2 separate regions of the Homo sapiens genome follow, and region 2 is linked to region 1. The links come from fine-mapping of genetic effects on gene expression. A gene starts in region 1. The other region holds a variant in brackets. All regions are shown on one strand. Distances are from middle to middle.

The links. PIP is the estimated chance that this variant, and not a neighbour inherited with it, causes the effect.
Region 2: its variant is the best candidate, but not a certain one, in a credible set for the expression of ABCA5 in whole blood (INTERVAL, PIP 0.59).

The regions. Positions count from the first base shown.
Region 1 is chr17:69,324,653-69,329,055 of GRCh38, reverse strand. It overlaps ABCA5 (ATP binding cassette subfamily A member 5), which reads left to right and starts at 1,923. Exons shown (of 39, transcript NM_172232.4): 1 at 1,923-2,004. RefSeq lists an enhancer at 1,417-1,556 and silencers at 1,637-2,016, 2,147-2,236.
Region 2 is chr17:69,250,411-69,254,813 of GRCh38, reverse strand. ABCA5 (ATP binding cassette subfamily A member 5) reads left to right here. Exons shown (of 39, transcript NM_172232.4): 32 at 324-499; 33 at 945-1,020; 34 at 1,147-1,241; 35 at 2,948-3,067; 36 at 4,193-4,342. Among named protein-coding and RNA genes, the nearest start is that of PRO1804, 18 kb to the right of the region's middle. The variant A/G (reference allele first, on the strand shown) is at 2,558.

The DNA.
Region 1 (4,403 bases):
GTAGAAATGAGTAGACTTCTGAAGTTAAGGCAGGTTAAGGCTACTAGTGAGAAGTGTTGGGGTGAAAGTATGGTTCAGTAACATGTTAACCAAGTTTATCTTTCATGTATATTTCTTTACTTGGCCCCAAATCCTAGGCCATTGAGAATTTGTAACTAAAATGTTCTAGATGTTTCCAAAAGAGACAGAATATATCAGGGATAGTTTTCATTACATGCCTTCTTTAGTTTCCTGGTGTAGTTTTTTGAATATACTTATCTCCCTTTCCCCCATCCCCATTGCTAGATCTTTTAATCCAGGGGTCCCCAATCCCCAGGCCAGAGACTGCTACCGGGATCTGTGGCCTGCGAGGAACCAAGCAGCACAGCAGGAGGTGAGCGGAGGGCAAGTGAGTGCAGCTTTATCTGTATTTACAGGGGCCCCCCATGGCTGGCATTAGGGCCTGAACTCCGTTTCCTGTCAGATCAGCAGTGGCATTAGATTGTGATAGGAGCGAGAACCCTATTGTGAACTGCGCATGTGAGGGATTTAGGTTGCGTGCTCCTTATGAGAATCTAATGCCTGATGATCTGTCACTGTCTCCCATCACCCCCAGATGAGACTGTCTAGTTGCAAGAAAACAAGCTCATGGCTCCCACTGATTCTACATTATGGTGAGTTGTATAATTATTTCATTACATATTACAGTGTAGTAACAGTAGAAATAAAGTGCACAGTAAATATAATGTGCTTGAATCATCCCCAAACCATCCTCCCTCCCCCAGAAAAAACTGTCTTCCATGAAACTGGTCCCTGGTGCCCAAAAGGTTGGGGACCGCTGTTTTAATCATCAAGGATTCTGACGAACCTCTTTGAATTTTCTATTTAATTCATATTCCATAAGTAAAACTTGATTCCTTGTTTGTTTGTTTTTCCCCTAAGAATTTAGAAAGCAGAGTGCATGTTGGGGAGACCTGGTTTAAATTCGAGAAGCAGATAACACAAAGACAAGTAAAAAAAAAAAACATGATGTACACAGGATTGACAGAATAAAAAAAAAGTCTTTGTGCAAGGGAATGTGACTATACAGAAATGTGGAGAGGAAAATACGTAATGTTAGTGTTAATAACTTTTGACCCCATTTAGGTCACTTTGAGTAATGAAGCTCAAAACACTAGATTATATTTTTAGCAAAGTAAGTGCAGTATCCAGTCTCTCACAGATGTCATGTGTCTCAGGCCGTTTGGAAAATTCAGCATCTGCCGCATTCCCAGTCTTTGATGAGGACACTCCGCGAACTACAAGCACCCTCAGTGGGAGGACCTCCCAGGTCGGGGTGTGAGGGCCAATGAGGAGGCTGGGGAGGGGAGGCAAGAGTTACGGAAACGGGGCCACAGCACTCCAGATGCCGCGGCGGGAGGAAGCGGGGCTGCAGAGGACTCAAAACGCGTTCAGAGAGGCCCATCCAAATGCCAGGAGACAGACGGCAAGGATGCTTAAGAGGAGACGTGACTGGGCGAGGCAGATGAGGAGAGGGCCGTGGGCCAAGGTCACCCGCTAAGAGGCGGCAGGTTTACCACTGAGACACGAGGCCGTGGTTTTTGCCCGTGCCTCCAGAAAGAGCGTGGCGAGATCCCCGCAGAACCCAGGCGTGGGAGGCCCTGGGGAAGAGCCACGAGGCCCGACTCTAGTGGCTCAGGGGCCCTGGGCAGCGGCGCGCCACCGCTCGCCCCACCCTCAGCCGCTCTCCTCTTCCGGGCGCGCTGCTTGCCTGCGTGCGCCGGGACGCGCGGGGCCGAGCGTCTGAAGCGCGCCCGTACGCGGAGCGGCGCTTTCTAGGAGCCCCGCCCTCAGGTGCGCTCTGCAGGAGGCGGGGCGCGACTTCGGCGCCGCCAGCTCTGCCTGCGCCAGGAGCGCGCGGGTGCGCGCGGCCGCGCCCTCGCACAGATCCCAGCTGGGTCACCCGCACTGAGTCAACAGACTGAGCGCGTCCAGGCCTGACAGCTCTGCGGCTCGGGCCCTGAGGTGAGGCGGGCGTCGCGGGCGGCGGCGGCGCTTGAGGCTAGCCTGGGACAGCCGTCCCTGGGGGAGTTGAGGGGACGAGGAGGGGCTGGCCAGCGAGGGACGGCGGGGAGAGAAGGGGAGTTCGGCGTCTGAGGTGTGGGGTGAAGCGGGCTCGGAAGCGGGCAGAGGCGGCGAGCTGAGGGAAACAGACCTCCCTCAGCTCCCGGGAAGCGCGGGTTGCCAGCCTCGGGGATGCGGTGGGAGCGCCCAGGATGCGGACGTGAGGGGGTCGGGGCCCTGCGGCGGGGGCTCCGCGAGGCTCCCCTGGGACCGGGTCCGGCCGTGGGACTTCGGGACACTGCCTTTGCCTGGACGCTGTCGTTCCACCCTCAGCAACCTCAGGGAAAGAAGGAAAACAAATATTGATGTAAATTTCCGTCTGAACAGCTGGGTAATGAGCGCTTGCTCTTCCCTGCGAGGTTACGCGCGGATCATTACCTTGCGTGTTAAAAGGAGTTTCAGTGAGAAGAAAATGCGCAGATCTCATGACACAGTTTGGGAGGGAAATTCCCTGATCCTAAAACACGAATAGGAGCTCCAGGCATGGAAATACTTAATTGGATCGGAAAGCTGGGCAGGCTGGAGCTATTAAGCTGAAGGAGGTTTTCCCCTGGGCTCCTCAGGCTTCGATTTACGTTTTAAATAAATAAGTCCGAAAATAATGAAGATAATAACCACGTTTACTTTCTACAAGGGCGTTCTGAAGGAATCTAAGGGAAGAGGAGTATTTGCTGGACTACAGCTTTAAGCCAGGCTCGGTATTAGCTCTTTTCATTCTGACAGCAACCCTGTAGGATTGGAGGGGGTTATTCCAGTTGGGCAGGTGTGGAGAATGGGCCTCAAAGAGGTTAAGTAACTTATTAAGGTCTCAGCTAGTAAAAGGATGGAGTTGAGATTCCAACCCGGGCTGCCAGACCCTAATTCTGGTGCTTTATTTAGTATATTTTGTGTTTGCCGGGAGAGCAATATTGTATGTGTTTTAGGGAAGACTCCATAGTAGGGAACATTATTAGGGCAGTTAGGGCTTTGTGGGTATTTGTGTTAAAATCAAACTAAAGAGGCGTTAATCTTTGCATATGTGCTGTTTGAGTATATTTCCTTTCAAACAGATTTAGTGTAGGGAAATCTTACATTCACTATAAGAGCAAATTTATTAGTACATTCCATGTGTATTGCATGTCTTTTATTTTTAAAGAGACAGCGTCTCGGGCTAGAGTGCAGTGGTGCGATCAAAGTTCACTGCAGCCTTGAACGTCTGGACTCTAGGGACCCTGCTGAATAGCTGGGGCTACAGGCGTGTGTCACTGCGCCCAGGTAATTTTTTATTTGTTTTTCAGAGACGAAGTCTTGCTATATTGCCCAGGCTGGTTTGTTGCATGTCTTTTACATTCCAGATACCATACTATGTGCCAAGAGTACCGATATGAATACAATTTATAATCTCTGTCCTTGAGTTTAGTTGAGAGGGTGATTGCATAAAAGAATTTTATGATATTGTACTAAGTCATAACTTTTCTAGTATGTAAATTAGTTGGATTAAAAATAGTTTTAAGGGCAAGCTTTTAAGGACCTATTATGCATAAGAAAATTTATTGGATGACTTGTCCTCTGTGTACCATTGCATTGTTATTTTCTCCCTCAGCAAGAAACACTGTGATAAAATTTAGGTTAAATTATATTGACAACTAGCATTTTTTTTTTTTTGAGACAGGGTCTCATTCTGTCACCCAGGATGAAGTGCAGTGGCAGGATCTTGGCTCACTGCAGCCTTGACTTCGCAGGCTCAAGTGATCCTCCCACCTCAGCCTCCCAAGTAGCTGGGACCACAGTTGTGTGCCCCTACGCCTGGCTATTTTTTTTTTTTTTTTTTTGGTAGAGACAGTGTCTCTCTATGTTGCCCAGGTTGATCTTGAACTCTTGGGCTCAAGCCTTCCTCCCACTGGGATTGCCACGTGAGCCACTGCACCTGACTGCATTTTGTTTTATTATTGCACCACCTTACAGTAAATTTTAAAGCAATAAAGAAGATGAGAGCATTTATAATTTATCCCTTTTTAAGCTAAAAGGCATATTTTGTAGTGCTTTTATTTCATTGATTGAGAAGCAAATGATGTAGCTAGGCAGGAGTTTGTTTCATGTGCCAGATATGTTCCTAATTTCTCATTCCAAAAATATCTTAGTTTAAAAGTGTAGCTAATACCAGATTGCATTTAATTTCTTGTGTTTCAGAGTTGTAATGAAATCAGTCTTCAGTTTAGGCTGAAATGGCACATTGTTGAAATGTATAACATTACTTTGTGGTGGATTTTGGAAATCTCTTTTAATTGCTTCAGTTTTCTCAGTAAAGTAGGATTCAAGGT
Region 2 (4,403 bases), 74 kb after region 1:
AGTGGCTCATTCCTGTAATCCCAGCACTTTGGGAGGCTGAGGCAGGAGGATCACTTGAGCTCAGGAATTCAAGACTAGCCTGGGCAACGTAGTGAGACATCTTCCCTCCTAAAATTCAAAAAAGAAAAAAGCAATAGCCAGGCATGGTGGCACATGTTTGTAGTCTCAGTTACTTAGTGATAATAATAATAATGACAATAAAGGAGTACAAATCTGACTTGATATTAGTCTGGCTGTAGGAAGGGGTTTTAATTAATGTACTTGCCACTTCCTTCACAGTGTAAATTAAGCAAAATAATAAAAATTGGTTTGTGTTTCTATAGGTATTTTTAGGAGATTATTCTTCAGAGACAAGTGAAGATGATGATTCACTGAAGTGTATGGGTTACTGTCCTCAGATAAACCCTTTGTGGCCAGATACTACATTGCAGGAACATTTTGAAATTTATGGAGCTGTCAAAGGAATGAGTGCAAGTGACATGAAAGAAGTCATAAGTCGGTAAAATAATTGTCTTTAGATTCCTTTTGTTACTTAGAGGAAAGGTTTGCATTTCATATTTTTAAAATTTCATAACAAGCATTTCTGTGGACAATGATTTTTATAGAAAATGTTTATTACTTTTTCATATATTCTTTATGATATATGAAAATATACTGATAGCTGTAAATTATGATAGTTATAAAAAGGTCATTTTTTAATTTCTAGTTACAGGATAAATATACCTATAGATATCATGAAACTTATTTTAATTCAAAGTGAACCATTTTATCAAGATATTAATTTATTTAAAATGATGTAAATTGGAGACTTTTGCCCTTACCTACTTATAATAAGCTTCGACTAAGTAACTATTCTAGAGAAAACAACATCAGGGATCACACCCAGTTGGTATTTGTGTTTATATATATCATGGTATTCTCATTTTGTATTGTTCATTTTGCAGAATAACACATGCACTTGATTTAAAAGAACATCTTCAGAAGACTGTAAAGAAACTACCTGCAGGAATCAAACGAAAGGTACTTTCATTAAACACCAAATAATGCCTGTATTTTTATTGATAGTTTAGTACCTGATATTGTCTTGATAGATTCCTTATAGTGAACCTTTGTTAATTTCCCACCCATCTTTTTCTTTCCATGTAGTTGTGTTTTGCTCTAAGTATGCTAGGGAATCCTCAGATTACTTTGCTAGATGAACCATCTACAGGTATGGATCCCAAAGCCAAACAGCACATGTGGTGAGTATGGTACTTGTGACACAGTACATGATACTTTAGAATAGAACAGTTTCTTTTATTATAATAGTTTAATGTTAGTTATATGTACATCTTGATTTTAAATCCTATTCAAACGATACACTAGTAATTAAAAATTAAATAGATTTAGAGATTTCCTTAAGCTTTTAAAACTTTGCATATTTTTCATGAAGTGTTCATAATATTTTACATATTCCGAAACAGAAATAAGCATGAGTCATTATTAAGATAAAGAGTTCTAGTGTTCTGAATAGTTTTTAAGTTTTTTTCTAGTCATTTAGCATACAAATGATCTTTTCCATAATAATAGTGTCTTAAATTTATGTTGAGACTCTTTCTAGGACAGTCATGCATTGCCTAATGACAGAGATACATTCTGAGAAAGGTGATGTTGTCGTTGTGCAAACATAATAGAGTGTACTTATATAAATCTCTGGGTGGTTATAGCCTACTACACACCTAGACTATATGGTATAGCCTATTACTCCTAGGCTATAAATCTGTAGAGCATGTCACTGCACTGAATACTGTAGGCAGTTGTAACACAATGGTATTTGTGTATCTAGATGTATCTAAACACAGAAAAGATACATTATAAAAGTATTATAATCTTATGGAATCACTGTTGGAAATGTGTTTCATCATTGACTGAAATGTCATTATGCAGTGCCTGTAAAGTACTAATTAGTTGAACAACTCTTTTTTTTTTTTTTTTTTTGAGTCAGAGTCTTGTTCTGTTGACCAAGCTGGAGTGCAGTGGTGCCGTCTTGGCTTACTGCAACCTCTGCTTCCCAGGCTGAAGCGATTCTCCTGCCTCAGCCTTCCAAGTACCTGGGACTACAGGCAAGAGCCACCAAGCCCGGCTAATTTTTTGTATTTTTGGTAGAGACAGGGTTTCACCATGTTGGCCAGGCTGGTCCCGAACTCCAGACCTCAGGTGATCCGCCCCCTTCGGCCTCCCAAACTGCTGGGATTACAGGTGTGAGGCACAGTGCCTGGCCTTGAACAACTCTTTAAGCCTCAACTTCCATGTCTATAAAATGTAAGGTTTGGTTTGGATGCATGTTACGGTTTTCTTATGATTCAAAGCCTGTTTTGGTTATAACATGAAAAGGCATCAATTTTAAAATTTATTTGTTGTCATACTTTTAGCCCATATTAACATTTGAAATCATAGATTTTTTTTTTCCATTTGACAAGCTTTCAAAATGAAGGGAAAATAAATTAGAATATAAAAGTCATGGCCTGGCGCAGTGGCTCACGCCTGTAATCCCAGCACTTTGGGAGGCTGAGGCAGC[A/G]GACCACGAGGTCAGGAGATCGAGACCATCCTGGCTAACACGGTGAAACCCCGTCTCTATTAAAAATACAAAAAAAAATTAGCCGGGTGTGGTGGCAGGCACCTGTAGTCCCAGCTACTCAGGAGGCTGAGGTAGGAGAATGGTGTGAACCTGGGAGGTGGAGCTTGCAGTGAGCCGAGATCGGGCCACTTCTCTCCAGCCTGGGGGACAGAGCGAGACTCCGTCTCAAAAAAAAAAAAATCATAGTTGGGCAGGATGTAATAGCCATAGCAATTGATATTTGGTAAGTTTTAATTAACTTAATTAACCAACCGGTTGGATTTTTAAAAACCCATTTTTTTTTAACAAACAGATGTGTTCCTCTCTTTTTGTTTTATTTATGTTTTATAGGCGAGCAATTCGAACTGCATTTAAAAACAGAAAGCGGGCTGCTATTCTGACCACTCACTATATGGAGGAGGCAGAGGCTGTCTGTGATCGAGTAGCTATCATGGTGTCTGGGCAGTTAAGGTTGATGTCTAAATAGCGTGCCATTCAGGGGAAGAGGTTGGGGGTTGGATTTTGAAAGTCATCATTTCAAAAACATGGCAATAGTTAGTAATTTAAATGTTAAATATTTTAGTTTTTGAGTTAGCTTTTGATAGATTGACTTGGAAGTATGTTGAGTTTTTTAAAAATATGGCTGTCTACTTTGAATTTGAATTCACTTAATATTTCAATAACTTGGAATATTATTTTTAGGCATAGTACTTGTTATTTCAAAAAATTGTTATATATTGGATTAATTATGTAACACAAATATGAAATAAACATATGAGTTTCTACTTACATAAATAAATAATTGAGTAAAGAAATGTGTCAGAGAAGAGGTACATCTTCCTTACAGAACAATTCCAAATAATAATATATGTAGATAATACCCACTTCAAGGGAGGAGGCTTAATCTCCTATCCCCCAAGTTTGGACGGGACTTAGCCAGTTTCTTGTAAAAAATGAACGACAGAAGGAGAAAAATAGTAACTTTACAGTTGAGAAAGCTGGCAAATACTACCTTAACTAAACGATGTTGTGCAGATATCATGTATTCACTGATATGATATGATGGAAAAAGTACTACAGCTGTGTAATATTCTCTCCAAAACCCATAACCCAAGTGTAGTCATGAGAAAAATATCAGACTAACCCAAATTGAGGGACCTTCTAACACACACCTGACCAGTACTTCTCAAAACTGTCAAAATCATGAAAAAGACAGAAAGAGTAAGAAACTGTCACCCACAGTTAGAGACTAAGGTGACGTGACAGCCAAGAACACTACGGTATCCTGGATAGAACCTGGAATAAACAAAGGACACTAATAGAAAATTGGTGAAATCTAAATAAAGTATGGAGTTCAGTGACAAGGAATGTACCAATGTCGGTGTCTCAGTTGTGAGGAATTTACCATGGTAATATAAGATGATAAGATTAGGGAAACTGAAACCGGATAAAGAGTGTATGGGGATGCTGTATTTTCTTTGTAATTTTTCTCTAAATATAAAGGTATATTTTTTTAAAATGTAGTTATATGTGTGAGAGATTATTCTTTGAAGCTGTCATTTTATATCTGAGCTTTCTTTTAAAAAATTACTTCAGATGTATCGGAACAGTACAACATCTAAAGAGTAAATTTGGAAAAGGCTACTTTTTGGAAATTAAATTGAAGGACTGGATAGAAAACCTAGAAGTAGACCGCCTTCAAAGAGAAATTCAGTATATTTTCCCAAATGCAAGCCGTCAGGAAAGGTAAAATTTTAAAGAATGTGGTTATATTTCTTTATAGAGCAAAGGTTATAAAAAGTTATTA